Homo sapiens: one gene and its partners. The protein of the gene in region 5 purifies or fractionates together with the protein of the main gene of each other region. This does not show direct contact. Each region holds a gene or a part of one and is shown on either strand. Other genes may lie near its edges. The genes, in order: FARSB, UTP6, NCAPD3, CNN3, SCYL3, CCZ1B and TGFBRAP1.

Region 1 (3,500 bases), on a different chromosome or scaffold from region 5:
TACTTTTGGCAGCAGAATAATTTCCTTATGGCCCAATACAATATAATTATTCCGACTAGATTACCAAATTCTCCATAATCCATCCTGTACTAAAATTGGTTGACTCTTCCTCCTTGTGGGAGGAGAGTCACTACAGACACCAAGAATCCATTCAGGCATGTCTTTAACTTCTACTTCCCGGTACTGCCTGCCACAATTTTATCCCTTAGAACCCAGAACAGCTGGGAGCAGATAAAATCTTCTTGGGTTATGAGGTAAGTTTTGTGTTGTATTTCCATATCGCACAGTTTTTCTATCTTCTGAGACTATAAGTTTACGATGTGCTGCTTCAGGATCTAGAATTACATCTACTTGAAATCGCTTGATAATTTTGTTTTGGCCACAATATTGTGGAGACAGATGGTAACCATATTCTTTTAATTTGAATAAAAAAGGTTTAGGGAATTTTAAATTCTTATGTCTGTGATAGATATCCTTAACATCAGCCAGTAATTCCAGTTCTGACTTCACATATATGCTCTCTATCTTCTTTAGTAGATATTTTAATGAGGAGGTATAATCTGAAAATTTTGTTAGGCTTTCATTTAGTTGTGCTAAAATATCCATCTCGTCATCTTGTAATTGCCCAAAAACAGTCTCTTGCTCATTTTGCAGAAATAACCTAAGTTGCTCAAATTCAGACTTGACTTCTTCTGCCGTATGTTTTACCTTTTTCTTCAGTTCCAGTGATTTTCTGGTTTGTATAGTTATGACTTTTTCAATTAGTTCCACTCTCTCCTTCCACGGTGCATTGTATTGCTCCAGTTTTTTCCTGATAGGAGGCAGCCTTCTTTATGGGCCAAACACAGCGATGCTGGTGATCAGTGGACAAACTGCACCTTGGACATAAAAGCTCTAGGTCTTTCTGAGAGAAGAAAGTCAAAACCTGATTATGCTTCTTACACACATGCTTCTCTTCCTGCCTCTTCCTCTTGCTTCTTAGCTGGAGTTGCTTAGCAATTTCAGTCAAACTACCCAGCTGGGGATTGCTTATAAATTTCCTTTCTGGACAGCACAAGTGGCAAAAGGGGCAGGGGAAACTATCATCTAGATCCTTCCAGGACATAATGATGCAGGAGAGACAGAAGTTATGCCCACAGCTGATGGTCACTGGGTCTTTCAAGTAGTCCAGACAGATGGGACAGCTAGCCTCTGCTCGGAGGTCAGCCAGGGCTGTCACAAATTCTACGGAGCCTGGAACAAAGATGGTAGGTAAGGTAATTCTTTTATTTTAGCAAGGCCTAGCTCTCTAGAGCTCAAGACCCACTATGCAGTGGATTCCTCCCCAGACCTTGAAATCTGACCAGCTTTCAGTTTTACTGACTTGGCATGTTGATGGCAGCTTCTAGAAACTTGTTAAGCCCTCAGCTCCTTAGCTTCAGACTTCACAGCCTGCAGCCTATTGCATATTAGAACTTATTAGCTGGGCTGCTGCTCTTCCCACTAAATGAAATAAAGTCAAGTTTTCTTCAAGAAAGCAGCCTCAGGTCCAAGATAAGGACTCCTTCCTGTAATCCCAGCTACTCAGGAGGCTGAGGCAGGAGAATCGCCTGAACCCAAGAGGAGGAGGTTGTGGTGAGCCAAGATCGCGCTGTCGCACTCCAGCCTGGGCAACAGAGTGAAACTATATAAAGCACATTGGGCCAGGCATGGTGGCTCACACCTGTAATCTCAGCACTTTGGGAGGCCAAAGCAGTGGATCACTTGAGGTCAGCAGTTCGAGAACCAGCCTGGCCAACATGGTAAAACCTCGTCTCTCCTTGCATTATAATCACCTGGAGGGCTTGGTAAAAGGTTGCTTGGGCCACATCCCCAGTTTCTGGTTCAGTAGGGCTGGTTTTTTCCTAAGTTCCCAGATGATGCTGCTGGCCTGCGGACTGTACTTTGTGAACTTATGCTGGAGCAGATGGATCAGAAACCCCGGCCAGAGGATGCTCAGGACCCATCAAGCCCCCGCGAGGAAGGACTCAGACCCCCAACCCCACCAAATTAAAGTATGTCTTTAATAGATAATCATTATTAACAATATTAAAATGTATAGCCGACTTGATTTTTTTAAATATTGTAATCATTATACAATCAAAAGTCAAAGAAAATGCTTCCTCATTTTTATAAGCAAGTCCTTAAAAAATATTAGTTCATTTTACAAGACCAATGAATATAGTAATGCATTAGTACTGGTTGAAGAGGCACGGAGGAAGGTTATGGGGGCAGAGGAGCTGAAGGAGGAGGCGCTGGAAGTGAAGGAGGCAGGGTAACTCTGGTTGAAGCAACATTTCTACTGCTTCTTGGTCCCTTTCTGTGATTAATTTGCCAAAGGAGGGAGCTTACTTTCATACTGGGGTTATCTAACACATTCTATCCATTTCCACAGCATGAGCCTGGTAACAAGGTGATTGTAGATGGAATAAGGCATGAACTCCTTTTGAGATTTTAGTCAAGGCAACAGACAGACATGGAGCTTAGCCCTCTGAACACAGAAATCATGGCCCACAAACATTATCACCTTAGTCTAACTATAAGGTAACAAAGATGAAATACAGTATAACCCTGAAAAATAAGCTTATGCACACAATCTTTGAAAAATAGACAAATATCCAATACATACAATTTCATCAAGCTCCAGACCAAATTCAAAACATAGTTCATCAAATTCTTCGTCAGCTAGGAAAATAAAAAAGGAGATGGTTAATTTCACTCTGTTCAGTATAAGTGAAAACTACATACAAACTGCATTTTCTTATTACTAATTGCCTTACACCAATCATACTACTAAATATCAGGCATCACATATTATCATTTAAAAACAAACAGGCCAGGCATGGTGGCTCATGCCTGTAATCCCAGCACTTTGGGAGGCCAATGTGTGTGGATCATCTGAGGTCAGGAGTTTGAAACCAGCCTGGCCAACACGGTGAAACCCTGTCTCTACTAAAAATACAAAATTAGCCAGGCATGGTGGCGCATGCCTGTAATCCCAGCTACTTGGGAGGCTGAGGCAGGAGAATTGCTTGAACCTGGGAGGCAGAGGTTGCAGTGAGCCGAGATCATGACATTGCACTCCAGCCTGGCTGACAAGAGCGAGACTCCGTCTCAAAAAATTAAAAAAAAAAAAAAAAAAAAAAAAAGCTGGGCCAAAAAAATTTAAGATAAAAAAAAGAAAAAACTATTAAAGGCTTGATTAATCTACACTAATATCAACTGTAGTTTAGGTTACCTGCACTGGGAAGTTTGCATGTACACAGAAGAAAAACACCTGTTCACCTGTTAAGTAGAGATCAGATATAAAGTAGGCTCCAAATCACAGATCTCACACAACAGAATGTCACATAAGTCCTATCAGGTAAAATGGTCTGAGGTGGCCTGACACTTTTGGCTTTGAAGCCAAGTCAATCAGAGTTTGAATTCTATCCCACTTATTAGATCTGAGAGTTTGGCACCTTATGTAAACTTTCTTGGTA
Region 2 (3,500 bases), on a different chromosome or scaffold from region 5:
CTTATAATTACATGCTTCACTTAAAAATTATTCCATGAAATATTTCAAGCATATAAAACACCCCATGCAGCTACAATGCAGCTACACCAAACCTACATTGCACTACATTTGCTTCAAATCTTTTTTAGAAATAAAACAGTTCGTATAAAAATGAAGCTACCTATGTACCTATCTCTGATTCTACTCTTCTCCCTCTCCAGAGGCAGCAATTACCTTGACTTTGTTATCATTCCCAAACATGACTTTGGACTTTATTATAATGATGTCTTGAATGCCTTTAAATTTTACATAAATGGTATCATGCTACATCCATCAATCCATAGGTGTTTTGTTTTGTTTTTTTGAGACGGGGTCTCCCTCTGTCGCCCAGGCTAGAGTGCAGTGGCATAATCTCGGCTCACTGCAACCTCTGCCTCCTGGCTTTAAGAGATTCTCCTGCCTCAGCCTCCCGAGTAGCTTGGATTACAGGCGCCTGCCACCATGCCCGGCTAATTTTTGTATTTTTAGTAGAGATGGGGTTTCACCATGTTGGCTAGGCTGGTCTTGAACTCCCGACCTCGAGTGATCCACCCACCTTGGCCTCCCAAAGTGCTGGGATTATAGGCATGAGCCACCGTGCCCGGCCCATCAATCCATATTTCTACTCAACATTATCCCTTTAGCTATATCCCTATTCACCGAGGCTGGTGGTGTGTGCCTGTAATCCCAGCTACTTGGGAGGCTGATCAGGAGGTAGAGGTTACAGTCAGCCGAGATCATGTCACTGCACTCCAGCCTGGGTGACGGAGCGAGACTCCATCTCAAAAAAGAAAAAAAAAAAAAAGTTTGCTCTTATAATGAATATAAAGCAGTCCTACACCTGGTTTTTTTTTATTGTTTGTTTTTTTGAGATGGAGTCTCGCTCTGTCGCCCAGGCTGAAGTGCAGTGGCGCAACCTAGGCTCACTGCAACCTCCGCCTCCCGGATTCAAGCAGTTTTCCTGCCTCAGCCTCCCCAGTAGCTGGGATTACAGGTACGTGCTACCGTGCCTGGCTAATTTTTGTATTTTTAGTAGAGATGGGGTTCCACCATGTTGACCAGGCTGATCTCCAACTCCCAACCTCAAGTAATCCACCCGCCTCAGCCTCCCAAAGTGCTAGGATTACAGGCATGAGCTACCGCGCTCGGCCCCTACACCTTGTTTTAATCTTTATTTAACTAATTACTGATAAGGCTGATGTCTTTTCATAAGTTTAACTACAAGTGATGTTTCCCCTTTGTGACTTTCACGTTCACATGATTTGCCCATTTTTCTTTTTAGTTTTCATTTTCTTCTCGATTTACAGTTCTTTATATATGTGTATATGTAGTTCTAATTATGTGTTGTAAATATTTTCTCACATTTTGTGGCTTGTATTTTCACATTATTTGTAGTGTCTTTTTTGCACAGAAAAAAATTTTTTTTTTTTTTGAGACAGGGTCTCTATCACCCAGACTGAAGTGCAATGGCGCCATCATGGCTCACTACAGCTTCCACCTCCCAGGTTCAACTGATCCTCCCACCTCAACCTCCAGAGTAGCTGGGACTACAGGTGTGCACCACCATGCCCAGCTAATTTTTGTATTTTTTGTAGAGATGGGGTTTGCCATGTTGCCTAGGCTGGTCTTGAACTCCTGGGCTCAAGCGATCTGCCTGTCTCACACGTGAGCCGCCACGCCCCTCCAGAAATTTGTATTTTGAACACAATCAAATAAATCAGTCTTTTCTCTCATGGTTTGTGCTTTCACAGTCTAATTTAGCTTTAAGAAATCTTTTGGCTGGGCACACTGGCTCAAGTCTGTAATTCCCAAAACTCTGGTACGGCAAGGCAGGAGGATCACTTGAGCCCAGGAGTTCAAGACCAGCCTGGGCAACATAAGGAGACCCTATCTCTACAAAAAATAAGAAAATTAGCCAGCCATCTGGCACAAGCCTGTAGTCCTACCTACTTGGGAGGCTGAGGCAGGAGGATCATCTGAGCCTAGAAGTTCGAGGCTGCAATGAGTGCTCGCACCATTGCACTCCAGCCTGGGCAAGAGTGAGTGTATTATTTGGAAAAAAAAAAATCTATTTTTGACATAATATGGTCTTGGCTCATTTTGAGTGAGCAATCTACTCATAGGACCTCTTCCAAAAACAATAGCTTAGCCAAGGTTCATATATTGTTTGTTCGGCTGTCTTTTGTCTTTTTAAATCTAAGCTCAAAACTTCTAGTCTTTTTTTTTTTTTTTTTTTTTGAGATGGAGTTTCGCTCTTGTCTCCCAGGCTGGGAGTGCAATGGCACAATCTTGGCTCACTGCAACCTCCACCTCCTGGGTTCAAGCAATTCTCCTGCCTCAGCCCCTGAGTAGCTAGGATTACAGGCACCCAACACCACACCCGGCTAATTTTTGTATTTTTAGTAGAGATGGGGGTTTCACCATGTTGGCCAGGCTGGTCTCGAACTCCTGACCACAGGTGATCTGCCTGCCTCAGCCTCCCAAAGTGCTGGTATTACAGCATGAGCCACCATGCCCAACCAAAACTTCTAGTCTTATAAACATGTGATCTTGTTATTGGTTCTTTCTGAATCCTGATTCCGTCATCCAACATATTAGCTATTCTCCCCCACTGGAAAATTGGTCTGACATAATTTTTCTTTATTCAAACCTTCCATGCATTTACAAGATGAAAAAATCTTGCAGTACACCTCTTTCCAAGTGGACAGACAATAGATAAACAAGCAGTAACTTTTCAATTCTCTACACTCATCACATTCACTCTCCTCTATCTTGCTCACCAAGAGGCAAATCTCTTGCTGAAGTCCTGATACACACTATGTCTCTGACAATCTCTGATCTACAAACCCAGTAGAAAAAAAAAAGAAAGAAAACGACAAGAGAGAAAGAGGAGGGGAAAAGTAAGTTCAGTTTGGCCAGGACTACAGTCTTAGTGGAGTAATGCTACTCCCAATGCTACTCCTGTTCAGAAATATCTATCTAATGAACGTTTCTGGAATTCTTTTAATTTTTTTAAAAAACTGATGTTGGCCGGGCGTGGTGGCTCATGCCTGTAATTCCAGCACTTTGGGAGGCCGAGGCGGGTGGATCACCAGGTCAGGAGTTCAAGACCAGCCTGGTCAAGATGGTGAAACGCTGTCTCTACAAAAATTAGCCTGGCGTGGTTGTGGGCACCTGTAATCCCAGCTACTCAGGAGGCTGAGGCAGATAACTGCTTGAACCCAGGAAGCGGAGGTTGCAGTGAGCCGAGATCGCACCACTGCACTCCAGCCTGGGCAATAAGAGTGAAACTCCATCTCAAAAAAAAAAAAAATTTGATGTTAAGCTCATCATTCTAGAACTGATTTTAAATTTGTGAAGGAATGGGAGGCTGAGGCAGGAGAATCACTTGAACCCAGGAGGCGGAGGTTGCGGTGAGCGTGAGCAGAGACTGTGCAACTGCACTCCAGCCTGGGTGACACAGAGAGACTCTATTTCAATTA
Region 3 (3,500 bases), on a different chromosome or scaffold from region 5:
GAAAGGCAGCACTCCTAAGCTCCGACTCCGATGCCTGCTCTTTGACTCCACGGCTTTCTTGACAGAATTCAGGATTGCAATGGTGCTCAGGGACATGGGCCTGTGGAGAACAGCCACAGCCGCTGACTTTCTCACTGCAGACCACTGCAGAGGTGACAGTGCTGCACTGTGTCCCCGCGTGCCTCCTCACCGGCGCATCCCTCACCACCCTCATTCAAACCTCCCAGGGCACAGTGTGGAGCGGGGTGGCAGGCCAGACAATGACAATGACTTTCCTGCCCACGCTTGGGAATGGCAGGGACGCCTCTGAGAACATCGCCACAGAGAACCAGCCCTGATGTGGCCTCCAGGGGCTCTTTACCTGGCTTTGGGCAGCAACCTCTGCAATGGCCCTGTTTCAGGTGTAGGAGATGATACTGCTACATGGCCAGCACTTGCCCTGGGTGTGCAGGGCTGGCTCACGGCAGGTGACATGGCAGGGTTTTCTTGGCCAGCAGGAACTGGCACTGTTTCTAAACACAGGGCAACCTGGTAGAGAAGATAAAGAGTATGTACATTCTAATACTTTTTAAGTTTTCAAAAACGGATATATGATAGTTGTACATGGTTGGGGGTCCATATGAGATTTTGATACATGTGGACAACGTAATGATCAAATCAGGGTAATTGGCATCTCCATCACCTCAAACGTGAGTATCTTTTCTTTGTGTTGGGAACATTCCAATTCTTCTATGTACTTTGAAATATACAGTAAATTGTTAAACTGTAATATCTCCACTGTACTGAATACTAGAACTTATTTCTTCTATCTAACTGTATTTTGGTACCCATTAACCAACTTCTCTTCATCCCCCTTCTCCCACCCCTTCCCAGCCTCTGGTAATCACCAAAAATCCACTCTCTAACTCCGTGAGATCAACCTTTTTGGCTCACATATATGAATGAGAACATACAATCTTTGTCTTTCTGTGTTTGGCTTATTTCACTTAATATAATGTCTTCCAAGTTCATCCATGTTGCAACAGATGACAAGATTTCACTTTTTATAGATGAAAAGTACTCCACTGTATATGCACCCCATTTTCTTTACCATTCATCCACTGATGGACATTTGTTTCCAAATTTTGCTATTGTGAACAGTGCTGCAATAAACATGGGAGTGCAGGTATGTCTTCGACATCCTGATTTCCTTTCTTTTGACTATACAGTCAGCAGCGAGGCTGCTGCCTCATATGGTACCTCTACTTTTAGTTTTTTGGAACCTCTATACTGTTCTCCATAGTGGCTGTTCTACTTTCCATCCCTACCAACAGTGTACAAGCCATTCCCTTTCTCCATTTTAACACTTTATTGGAATAGAATCTTCACGTACTATGAGCAAGTCCATAAGTAATGTACTTTGAAGCCATATCAACCCTGGGTAAGTTGAATTTCCTTTTCAGAAACAGAATACTATGAGAAAGCTGCCACTTGTAGATGCTGTGGCATGACAGAAGAGAAAAAGGAGTATGCTACTTTGTGCTCATTGGTCTTTCCTACAAGAGATCTGCCTGCATTCCTCAGGACGGTGAGCAACAGCTACTCCTAGAAATGGCCGTGTGCCGGTCTGCTCTAAAGAGGGAGTGCTGGGGGAAGATGCGGACACACTGACACACCCTGGCAGACCTAGGATCTATAGTCACCAGCTACTGCTGCTGCCAGCTCGCTTCCTGCACCACGTCCTCATGGAAGGGAGGTCTGGAGCACAGTAAATCCATCACAGACAGAAAGGCACGAGGGAGTGGCCAACAAGCAGCACTCTCGAGGCCTTCGGGCTGACTAACCTCTGATGACGGAGATCTTGAGAGGTGCCAGACAAACGACAGACTGGTAGCAGACAGCAGACTGGACTGTCTGGTCACAGTGCAGTGGGCCCCACACCTACCTGTGCCACAGGTGCCACCTCAGCACCTCCAGCCGTCCCGGCCACATCTGCATGTTTTGCTAGCTCCTGCTCCTGGACCAGCTGTTCCTGGTACTTCTTCATGTCATACTCAAGCTCTGATGCCAGCTGTTTGTCAACTGCAAAGAAGTCCTTGAGCTCATCTCGGTAATCCTGCATCACCTCCTGAAACAGAGCCAGGAGCATCCTTTCATGTTTTCTTGAATAAAAACGTAAAGCCCTAAACCCCCACGACACACCTTCGCCTGTGTAACAAACCTGCACATCCTGCACGTGTACCCCTGAACGCAAAATAAAAGTTAAGAAAGAAAAAAGCCCCCCAAGTCATGTTGCTTGATAAATCATAGGAACAATAGGACTGACATTACTGAAAGCAGATGATTTCCATTCCAGTAACTAACAGGTACAATGGTATATTTGGAGCAAACACCACTGGCCACACAAGCAGAAAAATATGTGAGTAACTAACAGTTCTCTCTCTTAGGAAGCATCCTGGCTATGTGGCAGTTAATGGGCAATCTCTCCCAGGTTCCCAATGGGAGAAAGACATGCTCAGACACAGCCTCTGGAGCAAGTCCCAGGATGCATGGATCTAAAAGCTGCTCATCTGTCTACATTAGCCTCCCCATTGGCTCTCAGGGGATTCCAACTAAGGCTCAAATCCCATCTTTGTGTCTTCTTCTGAAGATTTTACAGAAAACCTTTTCTCATACCTAGGGAAAAACATTCTTAGGTCTTAAAGAGGGGTGCCAGGGGCAAGACCACTTTGCTAAGAGAAAGAATCATTCCACCTAACAGTAATAGGGAGAAAAAGACACTGCAGTTCCAACTGGGAGGGAAGTCTCAACAAAGAGAAGGAATCCATGCACTTTTCCAGCTGCCACTAGGAGTGGGTTCCACAGGCCAATGAAGAGACTCCCTCAAGCTACTGACAACAAGCAACGTGTGGCCATCCTGTGTGTGTGCTCACAAGCAGGAGGAAGGCTTATTTTTCTTAAGTGTTTAAGTAGTCTATGTAGGATCAAAGCTCTGTTTTTGTTTTTTTTTTTCCTTTCTAGGGTCTAAAGTCAGGCAATAAATACAAGAATATTTGGAAGTTTTTATTTTTATCATACAATGAGACTATCTTTCCTACCTTGGCTTCCTAGTATAAAAAGCTATTTGAAAATTTATATTCAATGTAATTTTTGTTGAGGCCTTTATTGGAAAAAAAATTGTAGCATTTTTTTGAGGAAGAAAAACACATAATGTGAACAGAGCTATAACTGCTGAATTAAAGAAAAACTATGTTGCATTTATTTCTTAGTAAAAGATTTTGCAAGAAAGGTCTGAGGCCCCACTTAGGTCCGCCCTGCAAGTCAACACATCCTGGGTTTGCTCCGACTGAGCTCCTCATGGTCCCCTTGCTTGACAAAGAATTCAGCCTGGTGATGGCAGCTCCGAAGGCAGCTCCTGCAGGGCAGTTATTTCCTGACCTTGTGAATCTGAGTCAGTGCAAAAGGTAAGCACCCTGAAATCAAACCCGAAGACTCACTTTCACCTTACCCCCAAGCAGCAT
Region 4 (4,242 bases), about 75 Mb from region 5:
AAAAAACTTTGGATTTTTTGTAGAGACAGGATCTTGCTATGTTGCCCAGGATGTTCCTGAACTCCAGGCCTCAAGCAATCCTCCCACCTCGGTCTCCCAAAGTGCTAGGATTACAGGCATGAGCCACCACACCTGGTTCACCTTACTCACTTCTATTCCAGGACGGTTCAACTATGATGTTTTGGCTCCTCTTCTCAAGCAGCTTTCCACACCTGGTTCCATGATCTCTTCTGGCACAGTAGCTGGTATTTGGCAAACATAGGTTTCATCCTGGGATCTCAGGGATTGAAATCTGTCCTAGGTGTGCACCAGAAAGTGGTGGCAAGAGATGAAGCTTCGGAGGAGGCTGACCTCGGCCAGGATTCTTAAGTCTCAAAGTTTCAGCTTTCTCACCCCTCAACGGACATGAAATCTACCTATTTGTAACTCCAGGGAAGTAAATGAGATAATGTTTGGAAGATATCTAGTCTACCAGCTGCTCAGGCGGGGGGCGAAGGTTCTGTTCCCTGTCCCTTCTCTATCAAATGGCTTTAAAATCAGAAGAAAGTATTACGGGTAGGAAATGGGACTGCGAAAAAAATGGAGGCTGATTCTGGCCTAAAGGATACTTATCTCTATACAAAGGGCTTCTGATTCAAAGAGGCCCCGGGATTCAAAAACACAAGCAGAGCTACACCACGTGGGGTTTGGGACGAGCTGAATTCCGGATAAAGATGCCTGTAAAGAGGAGTTGATGCGAATCCAGAAAAGCACTTGAAATGCCCAGGCTTTGCATGGCACATTCCCCAGGATTTTTTCGCACCGCATTTAGAGGTTTAGACGGAGTGAGCTCGAATCAGGCCAAAAGCCTTAGGTTACTCCTGGGCGGCAGCGGGGCAGAGGTCAGATCAACAGGTGTGGAAGGCTGCGAGGTGAGGGAAGAAGCAGGTGTCGGTGGAGGCCCCAGTTCCTCCGGCCCAGAGGCTCCAACGCTGCTATTGGTGTTCCAGCAGCGGGCGGAGGGGTCCTGCCCGGCATCTGGGCGCGCTGGGCCCAGAGCCCGGGAGGAGGCAGACGGAGGCGGCGGGTCAGCGGCGGGCCAGCCCCGGTGGGCTTCCGCTCCCCTCCGCCGGCCCGGTCCGGCCCGCCGCGGAGGATGCCTGGAGGTTGACGTGAATGGCCTGTGGCTGGGAAGCCCCCAGGCGCCCTGCCTAGCCCGGGGGCGGGGCCGCCTAGCCGCCGGCCCCGGTGGCGTGAGGGCTGGGGCGGGGGCCGGGGACCTCGCGGGGAGGGAGCGGGAGGGAAAGCGGCCCCCGCGGCCCTTCAATTGGCCGCACCGCCCCTCGGCGCAGAGGCGGGAGGAGGCGGCCCTCCATTGGTCGGGCCCGGCGGCCAATCCTCGAAGGCCCAGGCGGAGGCGGGGGCGGCCTGTGGGGAACCGAGGTGCGGGCGGCGAGCGAGGCAGCCGGGTGCTTCGCAGCGGAGCTCGAGGCTCTGTAGCACCCAGTTGGACCCAGTCGCCCAGGCACCGCCCGCGCCCCGCGGCCGTCTCCTGCGCCTCCCAGAGGAGGGAGTTCGAGCATCCCCCGCGGCGGCCACTCCTCGGGGCCAGGAGCGGGGAAGCGAAGTGCGAGAGACCCCGGACCCCAGCGCTGTCTCTTCCCGCCGCCCGAACCACCATGACCCACTTCAACAAGGGCCCTTCCTATGGGCTCTCGGCCGAAGTCAAGAACAAGGTACGCCTGGCTCGGGCGGGCGCGGGGGCCCCCGGGGCACCCTTGGGCTGGCCTGGCGCTGGGCCGTGCTTCGTTTGCTCTTCGCGCTGTGGCTCACCGTTTTCCTGGAGAGGGGCCGTCGAGGCGGCGCGAGCGTCTCTGCCTGTCCCGGTCGCGTCCAGTCCCCGGGCTTGCGGGGCCGGCTCCCGGGCACCCGCCTGGCTTTGTTCCCGCGCCGTGGGACAGGACTAGTGGCTGGCGGTGGGTTCCCGGGCGCCTGGAGTCCCGCGGCGCCAGCCTTTCCGGCTGCGGGGGTCTCGGGGGCCGTTTGGTGACTGCAGAACGCGCCCTCCGGGAAGGGGGCGCTCCTGCGTGGCCACTCGCCCTTAGGCGGAGCCCGTCTGCGCGGCCAGGGACCCGGCGAGCCGCTGCCGCAGCCCCCGCCATCTGCCCGGGCCCCGGGTGCTGGCGGACTCCGCGCCTCCCCACGGGGAGAGAGACCGCCTAATGTCCCGCCGACCCCAGGGGCCCCGAGGAACGGAAGCCGGTCCGGGACCCATCACAGTCTCCGATCTCGGTGCCTGGGAGGCATTTGGAGGCAGATTGCTGCTGCTGCTTCTGCTGTTGCTTTTGCGGGAAATGGAGACAAAGCCTGAGCGCGCCACTGTGCGAGTGATATCTGCTTAGGCTTGAGACTTTTTATGAAACACTGAGAAGTTTGAAGTACATTAGACTTTCACGACATAAAGGATTATTTTTGTGGGTTGCTTTTGTTTGGGGCTTGTTTGCTGAGGCGGCTTATAGTTTGGAGCGATTGGGATTTGGTGACGCTCAGCTTTGCCACTGAGCCCAAGAATGCGTTAGGTTTATCTTTAGGACTTTTGGCCTGGGAAAGAGATGAGAGGCGTCCCCCTCCCCAAATCCTCTCCTTCCTTCCTCCCTCCCTGCATTCCAAGCCCATGACATCAGGGGTTTCTGGGGGGAGAGACCAGCCAATCGGCGCGGAACTGTGCACAGAACGCTCATTGTCTCCTTTCTGCTGTTCTGGCCAAAGCGCCACAAAGGAGGGCTGCCTGTGGTTTAATTCCCATTAACCTCCCGGGAGCCCAAGCATGTCAGGATTGCCACCGCACCGTCCGACCGCTGGTGGAAGGCACTGGCATTGTCAGAGCTGGAACATCCCGGGGCTGCGGGGGTAGGCGGTGTGAAGCGAATTATGTAAAGAGGTAATGAAGCGCACCGTTGTCAAACCCCAAGGGAGAGTTGTGGCTCTTGTCTCCCGCTGTTAGTCTGCACATCATACTGTCTTTGAAGCAAGGAGTTGATTTTAGTCTATGTATCTAAAGTTGAAATGTTTAGGTCCTTTACCTTTTCAAACGTGTTGCCCGTATTAGACAACAGTTTGCTAACAATTTTTTTAGAGAGCAGAAAGGTGAATGGTTTGTGTATGATTGAGTGCAAACCTCACCAACTGAAAAGTTTGTAACAAGTTACTGTTTCCTTCCTTCCAGGATTTACAAACCGAACTTTAGGAAACTTCAGAGGAATGGGCATGTCCAAAATGTTGGATGTGATGTGATACTTTGGCCTGGTTGTGCACATTCATTGTAATTCCCCCCAGTGATTCTTGGCTGGCAGCAGTTGAGTCTCTACTACCTTTTGCATTGTAAATGAGGTACTGATAACGTTGGCAGCCCTTCAAGTGACTTACTTTTCTTGGATGTTAATAATATCCATGCTAATTTCTTTTTTGCTGACTAATGTAGCAGCTTTTGCCCTTTTCCTGCTTAATACTGAGCAGATCCAAGGAAATGCATACACAGGCTAGATCACTGTAATTATTGTAAATATTTAAAAACGGTAAAACCTCAGTTTTTAGAACCTTTGGAAAGTTAGTTATGAAAGCTGTGGATTTATCCCTTTAAGCACCAAACCCATTTTTTAATAACCCGTTTCATTTTTGTAGTCCTTTCAGACAGTATTCTTTCATAGGAAGTCTTTTGATCTTAACAGCAGAGCAGTCCTGTAAGGTGAGGAGGATTGCTGGGATTATCCAACATCATTTACAGATCAGTACACTGAAGCTCAGAAAGATTTGCTCAAGGTCACAGAAGTTGGACTATTCTAAGAATTTTAACTCTAAAAGCGATGTCTTAGTTGAGTGAAGTACTTAGGGATGTTCTACACAAACTCTGCTGTCTGTCGCCTTCCCCCCATTTTTTTTTCTTTCTTTTTTGAGACGGAGTCTTGCTCTGTCGCCCAGGCTGGAGTGCAGTGGCGCGATCTCAGCTCACTGCAACCTTCGCCTCCCAGGTTCAAGTGATTCTCCTGCCTCAGCGCCCCGAGTAGCTGGGATTACAGGTGCCTGCCACCATGCCCGGCTAATGTTTGTATTATTTAGTAGAGACAGGGTTTTGCCATGTTGGCCAGGCTGGTCTCCAACTCCTGACCTCAGGTGATTCCCCCTGCCTTGGCCTTCCAAAATGCTGGGATTACAGGCGTGAGCCATGGCGCCCAGCCCTTCCTCCCATTTTTGCTACCCACCTGT
Region 5 (4,140 bases):
GATCATTGTCTCCCCCAGGAATTTGAACTAAGAACAATTTTTGCCTATTAGAAGCATAGCCGAAGGTAGAAGGATGCTATGAGGTGGAGGTGGAGCTACGGCAAACCAAAGCCACATGAAGTCAGAAACTTTCCAGAGGAAGTCAGTTGGTAGTAAAATTTTAAAAAGCAAACACTGGGACCGTAGCTTAGTCATACTTAGGGGGCACATTACTACTATCCATCTCAAGACTACCGGAAGCCCAGCCTCAAATCTAATTCCACCCAGATACCCTAACATCCCATTGACACCCTTACAACCAGCCCCCTTTTCCTCAGGTAACTTGAATGGGTCTATGTTCTTTGAAACTAATTGCCATTTCATAGGCAGAAAGCTCTACTTGGTCTCCAACTCCTGCCTGAAAAGCCAGTCAGACTGGAAGAGTGAGTTACAGAAGTGTTACTTTGAAAGTATCTGAAGCTAGTCTGACCGTCTCTCTCTCACCCACAAAACACAGCTTTCCAAAATCAACACACAATTAAGAGAAAAGCAGAGAATAAGGGACTGTATATTAATGAATATCTTCTTCGCAGGAAATCATGCTGTTTATTTAAGTGTTAATATTAATCCTCATGGGAGATAAGACTGCCACCAGGATTCAGGGTCAGTGCTCTGGCTGATGAATGGCAGTCACCAGAGGCAAGAGAAAGGAACATTTAATTTACTTAGCTATTTCTAAATAGCAAAATACTTCCTTGTGGGAACATTGGCCTTGCAATAGCTATTAACCTTAGATTTCATATGAATTCCACTATAATTAACAAAGTTATAAAAGCATTAGGAAGTAGTTAAAATTCATTTTTCTTACTGTATTTTAGGTCTAAGACTAAAAAAATCACTTAAAAATTAAAAAGGGATGACTCAATTTCTTGAGAGAACTGGAAAGGATGCCATTTTCTTGTTTTGAAAGCATGTTAACTTTGACAGAAGTCCACTGATACCATCAGTGTAATACTGACAGTGGTAAGATTATATTGTATGTTCCCAGTGCAAACTTTATTGGGGGAAAATTAAAAAGGTGTGCTGATTATTGCAATTTGAGAATGTTTTGAAGCAGTAATTCTTCACACTAATATATCTAAAGAAGCACAAATACTGTTATATGAAGAAGTTTTTTTGTTTGTTTTTTGTTTTAAATAGAGATATGGTCTTGTTCTGTTGCTGCTGGCCTAGAGTGCATTGGCGCTATCCTATCTCACTGTAACCTGGAATTCCTGGGCTCAAGCTACCTGCCCTCCCCAGCCTCCCTAGTTGCTGAGATTACAGGCATGTGCCACCATGCCCGCCAGTGCTTTAAAAATGATAATTCAGCTAAAATTGATTTATTGAAATGTAAGAAAAACACTTGGCCTTCCAAAATGCTTTCCTGTTGTTTTGAGGACGGGGAAAACACAAAATCTTGCTCATTAGCTTTGAAATTAAAAAGTCACAAGAAGGTAGAAAAGGATATCCTAGTATCCCGTAATAGGTATTTCGTAGCACTTAGCATCTCCACTCTATAATAAAATGCTGAGTTGACAGTCTCTGACTTGAATATGCATCAGTCTTCCCTTTAATAATCTCCCTCCACTCTTTTGCCTACTTGGGCAGCACATAAAATTTCTGGACCGCTTGTAGATTAAGAAAACCCTTGTCTAGGTCAAAGGGCAACTCATACACTCAACTAAGAAACCCGTGTGCTCTATGGAAATGTTTCTACCAAATATTTTCTTTTCCCAGCAATTACTCGAGACTACCTTGGTCCTAGCTCCCTTAGCTTGAAAGTTCCAAAGATAATGGCTTGCACTCTGAGTATTAAGGATGCACTGTACTGGCTGATATTCTGGTATCCAGCGGTAACGTTACTCCGGCCCTTGCTTTCGTGTTTCAGGTATATATTCCCTCTGCGGAACTCAGTCCAGCATTGCTAGCTGACAAGCAATACACAATTAAGTCTTTATGGACCAAAATAATTGTGATTTCAGCTCAAGATACATTTTATAAGAACATGGGTCCCTAAAAACAGCAGTTAACAGTGACCCCCAAAATTCGAGACCCGACTCCGAGAATTTCACATGGATTCCTGAATATGCTCTTCCGAGAAATGTTTCATCTTTATTCTAAACAGAAAGCACTATGCCAAGACAGGAGCCAGCTGGGCCTTGGGGGACGGGCACTGGTCTTGGATCAAGAATGAGGCCGCCTTCCCGAGGGCGGGCGCGCCCCCAGGATCCCCCCGGGCTCGGGCACTGCCGCCCCGGGACAGTGACCCGCCCAGCCGAGCACCCTCGCCCTGCTTGCCGCGACCCCGCGGGGTCACTGAAGGGCCGAGGCGCCGCTCTCGCTTCGCTGGCCCCTCACCTTCCACACCTCCCTGCGAGGACCGACTCCGCGGCCGCCTTGGAGAGCTCTGGCCGCGGGCGCCTCACCCGTCGGGGGCCGCCCGCGAAGCGCAGATTACAGGGCGCCCCACAATCAGCAAGGGGAGGCTGCTCCGAAGCTGAGAGCACAGCTCAACCGGCCGCCGGCGCCGCGCCGAGCTCGCTCCCGCGCGGGCCCCAGAGCGCAGACCCGCGAGCGGGGCGCGCGCCCGCCGCCTCCTCCCCGCCCGGCCCCTTCCCCCACGGCGCAGTCCTGCAAGGACTGGGGGCGCAGCGCAGGGCTCCCTGTTACCTGCAGGAAGGCGGCGGGGGAGGAGGCCGAGGGTCTTGGCTCTGGTACCCTGTTGGCCCCCCTGTTGACACCAACCACCCCTGCCTGCCTGTAAGGCTGTGGCCACTACACCCACAATCTTCTGGGGGCCGGGTTTCTCCTACACCATAGAGACGGGTCCGGAAACGGGACAGAAGGCCCACCTTCCTCCCTCCGACGCCACCAATGAGGCCAACTAACCAGGAACCGAGGTAGAGAGGCCGCACAGCTGAGTCTCAGGCCGGTGCCATCTTAAGTGTGGGCGCCGCGACGATACCGAGTTTCACTCACTGCCCCAGTGGTCTAGTTAGTCCACGAAGATGCCCCCTTTCTAGATGTGTTGGTCGAATGCTTAAGTTTGTCTTGACTTGAATTTTTAGGCTTTTAACAGCACAGTTTTAATTTCATTTCCGCCCAAATCCAAAATGGCTGCTGGCCACTTGTAGCAAACAGTAGAGGTGCAGGGCGGAGAAAAGGAGTACGGGAATTAGCGAGGACTTTCAGGAGAGTGACGTCACTCAACCTGTAGCTTTGATTGGCTGGGCTGCGAGGGTGGAGTCGTGCAGAGCCGCTGCTGGCGGAGGTCGTGGTGATCTCGCTTGATCTTTGAGAGGGAAGGTCCTGAATCACATTTCATTTAGCAAAAAGTAATATTTGAAAATTTTAATATTAATGCAGTAGTTTTGCCCCCCTCCATGCTTTCTGCAGTGTCAGTTACCTGTGGTCAAACCTTGGTTCAGAAATGTTAAATGGAAAACTCCAGAAATAAACAATTCTTAAGTTTCAAACCGCCTGTATTCTGAGTAGCCCGATTAAATCTCGGGCCATCCACTCTGTCCCACCCTTGACGCGAATCATCTGTCGCAGGTAGCCGCGCTGTGTACAGTATCCACTCATTACCCACTCAGTAGCTGCTTTGGTTAACAGATGCACCCGTAGTATAGCAGAGATAATGAGAGATACCACCTGCTTATGTTCAGGTAACCCTTATTTTACTTAATAATGGCCGCAAAGCACAGGAATTGTGCTGACAATTTGGATATGCCGAGGAGAAGCTGTAAAGTGCTTCCTTTAAATGAAAAGGTGAAAGCTCTGGACTTAATAAGGAAAGAAAAAGAGTCATATGCTGAGGTTGCCAAAATCTATGATAAGAACAAATTATCCATGAAATTGTGAAGAAGGAAAAAGATTCGTGCTAGTTAACTAAGCACCTATCATGCACTGTGGCTGTAACTTTTGTAGTTTGAGGTGCAACAGCAAAAGACGGAAAAGGCATTACATTTGTGGGTGGGAGACATGAACAGAAAACGTATTTCAGCTGACCGCAGTAAGTTTTGCCAGAAAGTGTTGAGCCTATAGGAAGACTTAAGAAAGGGATCCCCTGAAATTAGGCACACCAAGCTATTTACTGCAAGTAAGGGATGGCTACAC
Region 6 (3,500 bases), on a different chromosome or scaffold from region 5:
AGCTCATCTGGTAGGTACACCCCGAGGCATGGTATTAAAAGAAGAAATTAAGATAATAAAAACAGCAGTGACTGGATTGATGACAGGTTGTCAAACAGGAACTTGCAGCGGGGAGGATGGGTAGGAAGCATCTTCATAGATATTGTCAAAATAAAGCAGTGATTATTTAAAGCAGAACTAGGGTGATTTGGGTTCAAATTTCCAAGCAGAGGAGTTTAAAACTGGCTGCATGAAAGATGAAAGGCTGGGCACGGTGGCTCACACCTGTAATCTTAGCACTTTGGGAGGCCAAGGCAGGTGAATCACGAGGTCAGGAGTTGGAGACCAGCCTGGTCAACATAGTGAAACCCTGTCTCTACTAAAAATACAAAAATTAGCTGGGCGTGGTGGTGCATGCCTGTAATCCCAGCTACTCAGGAGGCTGAGGCAGGAGAATCACTTGAACCCGGGAGGCGGAGGTTGCAGTGAGCCGAGATGGCACCACTGTACCCCAGCCTGGCAACAGAGAGAGACTCTGTCTCCAAAAAAAAAAAAAGAATGTTCCTATCAAGTAAGATTTAGGAATCCTGTTTTTATTTTGGAGTTTTTTTTTCTGAAATGATAAATGTTAAAAGCAGAATTTTTATACCTTTTTTTTTTTTTTTTTTTTTTTCTTATAGAGATGGGGTTTACTGTGTTGCCCAGGCTGGTCTCAAACTCCTGGCCTCAAGCGATCCACCCGCCTCAGCCTCCCAAAGTGCTGGGATTACAGGCACGAGCCACTGCACCTACTTTCTTTTAAAGAAACTAGATTTTTTTTAATCCAAGAAATCCAAAGTGTTATATAAACCAGGAAATTACCTGCTATCGTGAAACTAGGTTTGTGTCCTGCAGTAGGAACAACGTGGGCACAAGACTGCCCAGCATATATGACCCCTGAGAGCTGGGTGGCAACCGAGGTTGTGCACATTTGGCCTAGAGTAGGTGGACAGAAGTCATCAAGGCTTGCAGCTGTTCCGGGACCCTCAAGTTTTATGTTCCCATTGACTAGAGCCCTCTTTCTTTCTTTCTTTCTTTCTTTCTTGTCTTTCTTTCTTTCTTGTCTTTCTTTCTTTCTTTCTTTCTTTCTGTCTGTCTTTCTTTCTGTCTTTCTTTCTTTCTTGTCTTTCTTTCTTTCTTGTCTTTCTTTCTTTCTTTCTTTCTGTCTGTCTTTCTTTCTGTCTTTCTTTCTGTCTTTCTTTCTTTCTTTCTAACGGAGTCTCACTCTGTTGCCAGGCTGGAGTACAGTGGCGCGATCTTGGCTCACTGCAACTTCCCCTTCCTGGGTTCAAGCGATTCTCCTGCCTCAGCCTCCCAGGTAGCTGGGATTACAGGCATATGCCACCATGCCCGGCTAATTTTTGTATTTTCAGTACAGACAGGGTTTTACCATGTTGGCCAGGCTGGTCCTAAACTCCTGACCTCAGGTGATTCGCCTGCATTGGCCTCCCAAAGTGCCGCGATTACAGGTGTGAGCCACCGCACCTGGCCTAGCCCCGTTTCTTAATTAGGGGTGTGGCCATATGGTACTACTATAAGGTAAGTTCAGCTAATAGAAAAGGCAAAACTAGTTCCCCTAAAATTTACCTTCCCTGCCAAAATCTTGTAGCTCCATTTTAAGAAGAGAAACAAGTTACTGTAAAGAAATTTGAATCCAGTTAATAAACAACTTGGTGGGTTTCCACATGAACTTTATCTCCTAGGAAGACAACACAAATTTCAGGTGAAACCCATCTACTTTTTTTTTTGTTTTTGAAATGGAGTCGCTTTCTGTTGCCCAGGCTGGAGTGCAGTGGCATGATCTTGGCTTGCTGCAACCCCTGCCTCCTGGGTTCAAGCAATTCTCCTGCCTCAGCCTCCCGAGTAGCTGGGATTACAGGTGAGTACCACAACACCCAGCTAATTTTTGTAGAGACGGGGTTTTACCATGTTGGCCAGGCTGGTCTCGAACTCCTGACCTCAAAGGATCCGCCCACCTCGGCCTCCCAGTGCTGGGATTACAGGTGTGAGCCACTGTGCCCGGCCTCCACCTACTTTCTAATTTGACAAATAGTTTATCAGGCAACCTTACGCTGTACTGACTCAGCTATAGTTGCTTTCTGTGATATGTACACAATGTTACTAAAGTGAAATTCTGCTGTGAAATGTAGGAGATGGGAGGCTAGTTGTGCTTCTGTAGCATCAGGTCTGCAGAGGGATGGCTCCTCCACAGATGGAAATGACAGGACGTGCTTGCAAATCACACGCAGCCACGGCGATAGGGAGATGTCGTGTGACAAGCCAGAATCCAGCAGTAGTGGCCCATGGCCTTGCTTCCACCAAAAAGAGAAGGGTAGCTGAGATTCTGATCTCTGGGACAGAACACAAGCCCCGCCATGGGTGCAAACTCCTGAGAGTGAGGAAGAGGGAAGGCTTAGAGCAGAGGGTCTTCCAGGAGCTCATTCTGGGAGACCCTGGAGCCAGAGTGACCAGCAGCGTTGGCCCTTTGAAGCCTGGAGTCACAGGACAATCTGGCGCCCAGCTCTGGGGATCCTGTTGGCATCGTCATCTTGGAATAGCATCTGAGGGGTTGAGCAGGGCACAGCTCTGGTGGCTGCACAGAACTGCTCGGTTGTCACCTCCAGTGTGCTCGTGGGGAAAGGTCAGTCCCAGGAAGTAGCAACAAAAATAACCTTCAAGAAAAACAGCCTCTTACTCCAGGCGCCAACGCTTACACCTGTCATCCCAGCACTTTGGGAGGCTGAGGCAGGAGGATCACTTGAGACCAGGAGTTCAAGACCAGCCTGGGCAGCATAGTGAGACTGTATCTCTACAAAAAATGCAAAAAAAAAATTAGCTGGGCATTGTGGTGTGCACTTAGAGTCCCAACTACAGAGACTACAGAGGTTGAGGCTGGAGAATCACTTGAGCCTGGAAGTTTGAGGTTGCAGTGAGCTATGATAGCACCACTGTACTCCAGCCTGGGTGACAGAGCAAGACCCTGTCTAAGAAAAAGAAAAACAGCACGTTTTGATGGAATTGCTTATTCCAAAGCTGTTATATTAAATACCAAAAAGACTTTTAAGCCAGGCGTGGTGCACATACCTATAGTCCCAGCTACTGGGGAGGAGGAGGCAGAAGGATCGCTTGAGCCAGGAGTTACTTGGAGACCAGCCTGGACAATATAATGAGGCTCTGTCTCTACCAAAAAGTGGAAAAAAAACATTTGTCACAAGCAGAGTATATATTACCCTTATGTATTTACTTAGTATATTGCTTTGATTTTTTTTTTTTGAGACTGAGTCTCATTTGCTTGGTTGCCCAGGCTAGAGTGCAGTGGTGTGATCTCAGCTCACTTCAGCCTGCGCCTCCCAGGTTCAAGCGATTCTCATGCCTCAGTCTCCCAAGTAGCTGGGATTAGAGGTGTGTGCTATCAGGCCTAGCAAATTTTTATATTTTTTAGTAGAGACGGTGTTTTGCCATGTTGGCCAGGCTGGTGTTGA
Region 7 (3,500 bases), on a different chromosome or scaffold from region 5:
AGCATCTTTAAAGATGCTGACTAAGATTCTGACTATCACCAGTGGCAGAATCTTTAAAATGACAATGTGCATATTCTTAACCTGGTAGGAAATAATTACTAATATTTTTATTTTGACCCTTAGCATGTATTGCTTTATACTATTACTGATTTATTTTTCTAGTCCTATTTCCTTAATAGGACGGGGAGACTCTTAGGAAGTGGGATTGTGTCTTGTAATTGTTTAGTTTTTTGCAAACTTAGAGGTGCTTGCTGCATATGCAAGGTTAGCTTAATTAAATTATGGTCCTTGAGCATCCTAGCATTTTCCAATCTCTTCCCTACCTGGGTATGTATTTTGAAATTTTAAGAAAACATTAAAATGTTGATCTTTTAAATTATTATAATCATACTTTTAAAGTGAATTTTTTAAATTTAATATTCTTATTTTTTTTAAAAATAGAGACCAAGTCTCAATATTTTGCCCAGGCTGGTCTTGAACTCTTGGGCACAAGTGATCTTCCTGCCTGGGCCTCTCAAAGTGTTAGGATTATAGGTAAGCCTTAAAGTGAAGTTCTAACAAAAAGTTTAAATTTTCGATCATTTTGAGATCACACAGTAAAGTATGAATTTTACACCTTAGAGAAACGTTTCCTTTTGAAACATTACCATGTTGAAACTTCTCTGATTCAGAACCCCAGCAAGTTATATTTAATAGAGGTGTGGCCTAAAGTTTATCTTTTTATGATTCATATTTTATCTAAGTAAATATATCATGTGAATTAGATCATGGAGAGAATTTTCCCACTGCTTAAAAAAAATAGTTTTTTAAATTAATTTTTTTTTTTTGAGATGGAGTTTTGCTCCTGTCACCCAGGCTGGAGTGCAGTGGTACGATCTCGGCTCACTGCACCCTCTGCCTCCCAGTTCAAGCGATTCTCCTGCCTCAGCCTCCTGAATAGCTGGAATTACAGGTGCCCGCCACCATGCCTGGCTAACTTTTTTTTGTGTGTGTATTTTTAGTAGAGACGGGGTTTTGCCATGTTGGGCAGGCTGGTCTTGAACTCCTGACCTCAGGTGATCCGCCTGCCTCAGCCTCCCAAAATGGTGGGATTACAGGTGTGAGCCACCACTCCTAGCCAATTTTTTTTTCTTTTTTCTTTTTTTTTCTGTGTGAAAGCATCTCACACTGTTTCCCAGGCTGGAGAGCGGTGGTGCAATCATGGCTCACTGAAGCCGCAAACCACTGGGCTCAAGCAACCCTCCTACCTCAGCCTCCTGAGGAGGAGGGAATACAGGTGTGCCCCACCAGGTCTGGCTAAGTTTTTATATTTTTTTTGTAGAGACAGGGTTAAGGATAAGTCATTTTTAAGTGCTAGCATGTTACTTCTTCAGCTTTCATTTACCTCCATGTAATTCTGCATTATTACCATTTAATTACCAAAGCAAGTCCTTAATTTAAAGGCCTATAATAGGAAGCTTATCTTTAGCAAGGCTTGAATAACAGTTTACTAGATAATGAAACAATATTGCATTTGTTTTTAAATATTATAGAGTTATGACTTTTTAGTAAACCATATGTTTTTTTGTTTTTTGTTTTTTTTTTTTTTTTACAGCTCTCTCTCCCTCTCCCCTTCTCTATCTACCCCAGGATTTAGACTAAATATGAGGCGTTTGATTCTTTCTATAATATTCTTTACTGCAAATGTGTTTAGTTTATCCCTTATGCTAACTGAAGACAGGGGCTGGAATTATGAATATTATACTTTTAAGAAGCTAAATAAAAGGAGTTTGATTGTAGGTGCCCAGAGTTTGTTTCTCTATTCCTTCCGCAAAGGGAGACACAATTTATATTTTAAATGGCAGAACTGCTTACTCCTGCCATTTAAAAAAGACAACCCTGATTGATTAATCAATGAAGGAAGAAGTATTTTGTATTACTTCACTTTCACTAACTTAGATGTCTGGAAGCTGACATTTCAATATCTGGGTTTTACTCATTAGCTCTTAAATGGAGAAAAAAATGTTGTCTAGGTGGGTTTTGGTGGTTATGTTTGGTTGGGACAAATACATGATGTTGTTTAAGAGCTGTTTGTGCCAGAGACTATTTGTAGAAGCCTGCAAGAGTTCTGCACTCGGCCTCACCTGGGATTCTGGGGATGTTCCCACAGCCCCGAGGTAGATGGACATGATTCCTTCTCTGTGGTGCCTTTAGAACCTCCCTCTACACTTCCCCCAGCTCTTTTCCATAGTTTCTGTGAAGATGAGCTCCCGTAGGTGAGTGTGAAGATGTCTTAGGGGTGGGGCAGGTGTGTGAGTGTGTGTTCTGGCTTATGATGCAGGCTGTGTTTTGGCGGAGGTGAACAGGTTACCCATATCTGAGGACAGAAGACAGCATAGTCTAATCTCTTGGTGCCCAGCTTGGGAAATAAACACCTGAAGCAAGCTGGTAGTTTGAGAGAGGAGTGAGAGCTGATCCAGACTGGGAGGGAATCATAGTATTTATGATGAGATCCAAAAGTTTGAGTGCTGTGTGCCAGCTGTCCGCATTTTATATGAGGTCACTTACTTAATCGTCCAACAATCCTATGAAGTAGGTACCGTTATTCTCATTTCACAGATGAGGCAGTTGAGGCTGGAATAGCCAAGTGTCCATTCCAGCTGCTGTAACAAACTACCATACACTAGGTAATTAATAGATAATAGAAATGTATTGCTTACCGTTCATGGAGGCTGGGAAGTCCAAGATTAAGGCATGGTAGGCTCAGTGTTTGGTGAGGGCCCATCCCTCAGGGGTGGTGCCTTGCAGCTGCCTCCTCACATAGTGGATGGAAGGAACAAATAAGCTCTCTGGGGCCTCTTTAATAAGGGCACTAATGCCATTCATAAGGGCTCCACCCTCATGACCTAATCACCTCCCCACCTCCCAACACTACCACTCTGGGGATTAAGTTCCAACATATGAATTTTAGGGGGACACAGACATTCTGACCATAGCACCAAGTAATTTGCTCAAGTGATGGGAAGAAAACAGGAAGGACTGATGTGTCTACAGACAAGCCTCCTCCTCAACCCTGGGGTATCCTCCCTCCTGGGGGTTTTGTAGAGCTAAGGAAGGGGGCTGGAGTCTCACTTGTGTGTAGCTGTCATTGCCCCCATGGATGGGGGCAGACACAAAATTGTAGAATTCCAAATTTTCTATTTGAAAGGCACCAAAGAAGTTCTCTGATTCCTTCCCTTCCCTGATGCGTGAACCTTTCTTGAATATTTCTGAGAGGTCTTCCCTGCTTTGCTGGAATGCCTCCAAGTATTAGGAACTTAAGCTCTCATGAAGCAGCACTGTTCCATGTTCAGACAACTTGAGATGAGGAAGTGACAGTGATAGCAGCCTTTCACTTCAAGCTCTCTGAACATGCAGCAGTGCTGACGCAAGCCCAGCCAGCTGCCCTGCAGCTCCCGTCATTCTCTGCAGTCCTCTTTCCAGCTCTCTGATCCCCTGCCCTGCTCCCGCTCACAGGGACT

The links.
Region 1: the proteins of SCYL3 (region 5) and FARSB purify together in Homo sapiens (affinity purification with mass spectrometry; one large-scale study listed by BioGRID and IntAct). This does not show direct contact.
Region 2: the proteins of SCYL3 (region 5) and UTP6 purify together in Homo sapiens (affinity purification with mass spectrometry; one large-scale study listed by BioGRID and IntAct). This does not show direct contact.
Region 3: the proteins of SCYL3 (region 5) and NCAPD3 purify together in Homo sapiens (affinity purification with mass spectrometry; one large-scale study listed by BioGRID and IntAct). This does not show direct contact.
Region 4: the proteins of SCYL3 (region 5) and CNN3 purify together in Homo sapiens (affinity purification with mass spectrometry; one large-scale study listed by BioGRID and IntAct). This does not show direct contact.
Region 6: the proteins of SCYL3 (region 5) and CCZ1B purify together in Homo sapiens (co-immunoprecipitation; one large-scale study listed by IntAct). This does not show direct contact.
Region 7: the proteins of SCYL3 (region 5) and TGFBRAP1 purify together in Homo sapiens (co-immunoprecipitation; 2 studies listed by BioGRID and IntAct, with this or other methods). This does not show direct contact.

The regions. Positions count from the first base shown.
Region 1 is NC_000002.12:222,646,093-222,649,592, forward strand, and holds part of FARSB (phenylalanine--tRNA ligase beta subunit), read right to left. Parts: intron 2,704-3,500; coding exon 2,648-2,703; intron 2,034-2,647; exon of another isoform or gene 1,749-2,033; intron 905-1,748; exon of another isoform or gene 709-904; intron 255-708; exon of another isoform or gene 1-254.
Region 2 is NC_000017.11:31,895,209-31,898,708, forward strand, and holds part of UTP6 (U3 small nucleolar RNA-associated protein 6 homolog), read right to left. Parts: intron 1-3,500. UniProt on the Homo sapiens protein: Part of the small subunit (SSU) processome, first precursor of the small eukaryotic ribosomal subunit.
Region 3 is NC_000011.10:134,157,968-134,161,467, forward strand, and holds part of NCAPD3 (condensin-2 complex subunit D3), read right to left. Parts: intron 2,108-3,500; coding exon 1,925-2,107; intron 529-1,924; coding exon 362-528; intron 101-361; coding exon 1-100.
Region 4 is NC_000001.11:94,924,311-94,928,552, reverse strand, and holds the start of CNN3 (calponin-3), read left to right. Parts: upstream 1-1,442; 5' UTR 1,443-1,658; coding exon 1,659-1,715; intron 1,716-1,812; exon of another isoform or gene 1,813-2,193; intron 2,194-2,783; exon of another isoform or gene 2,784-2,920; intron 2,921-3,205; exon of another isoform or gene 3,206-4,242. UniProt on the Homo sapiens protein: Thin filament-associated protein that is implicated in the regulation and modulation of smooth muscle contraction. It is capable of binding to actin, calmodulin and tropomyosin. The interaction of calponin with actin inhibits the actomyosin Mg-ATPase activity.
Region 5 is NC_000001.11:169,891,097-169,895,236, forward strand, and holds the start of SCYL3 (protein-associating with the carboxyl-terminal domain of ezrin), read right to left. Parts: upstream 2,801-4,140; 5' UTR 2,692-2,800; exon of another isoform or gene 2,380-2,691; intron 1-2,379. UniProt on the Homo sapiens protein: May play a role in regulating cell adhesion/migration complexes in migrating cells.
Region 6 is NC_000007.14:6,816,276-6,819,775, reverse strand, and holds part of CCZ1B (vacuolar fusion protein CCZ1 homolog B), read left to right. Parts: coding exon 1-10; intron 11-3,500.
Region 7 is NC_000002.12:105,309,236-105,312,735, reverse strand, and holds part of TGFBRAP1 (transforming growth factor-beta receptor-associated protein 1), read left to right. Parts: intron 1-3,500. UniProt on the Homo sapiens protein: Plays a role in the TGF-beta/activin signaling pathway. It associates with inactive heteromeric TGF-beta and activin receptor complexes, mainly through the type II receptor, and is released upon activation of signaling.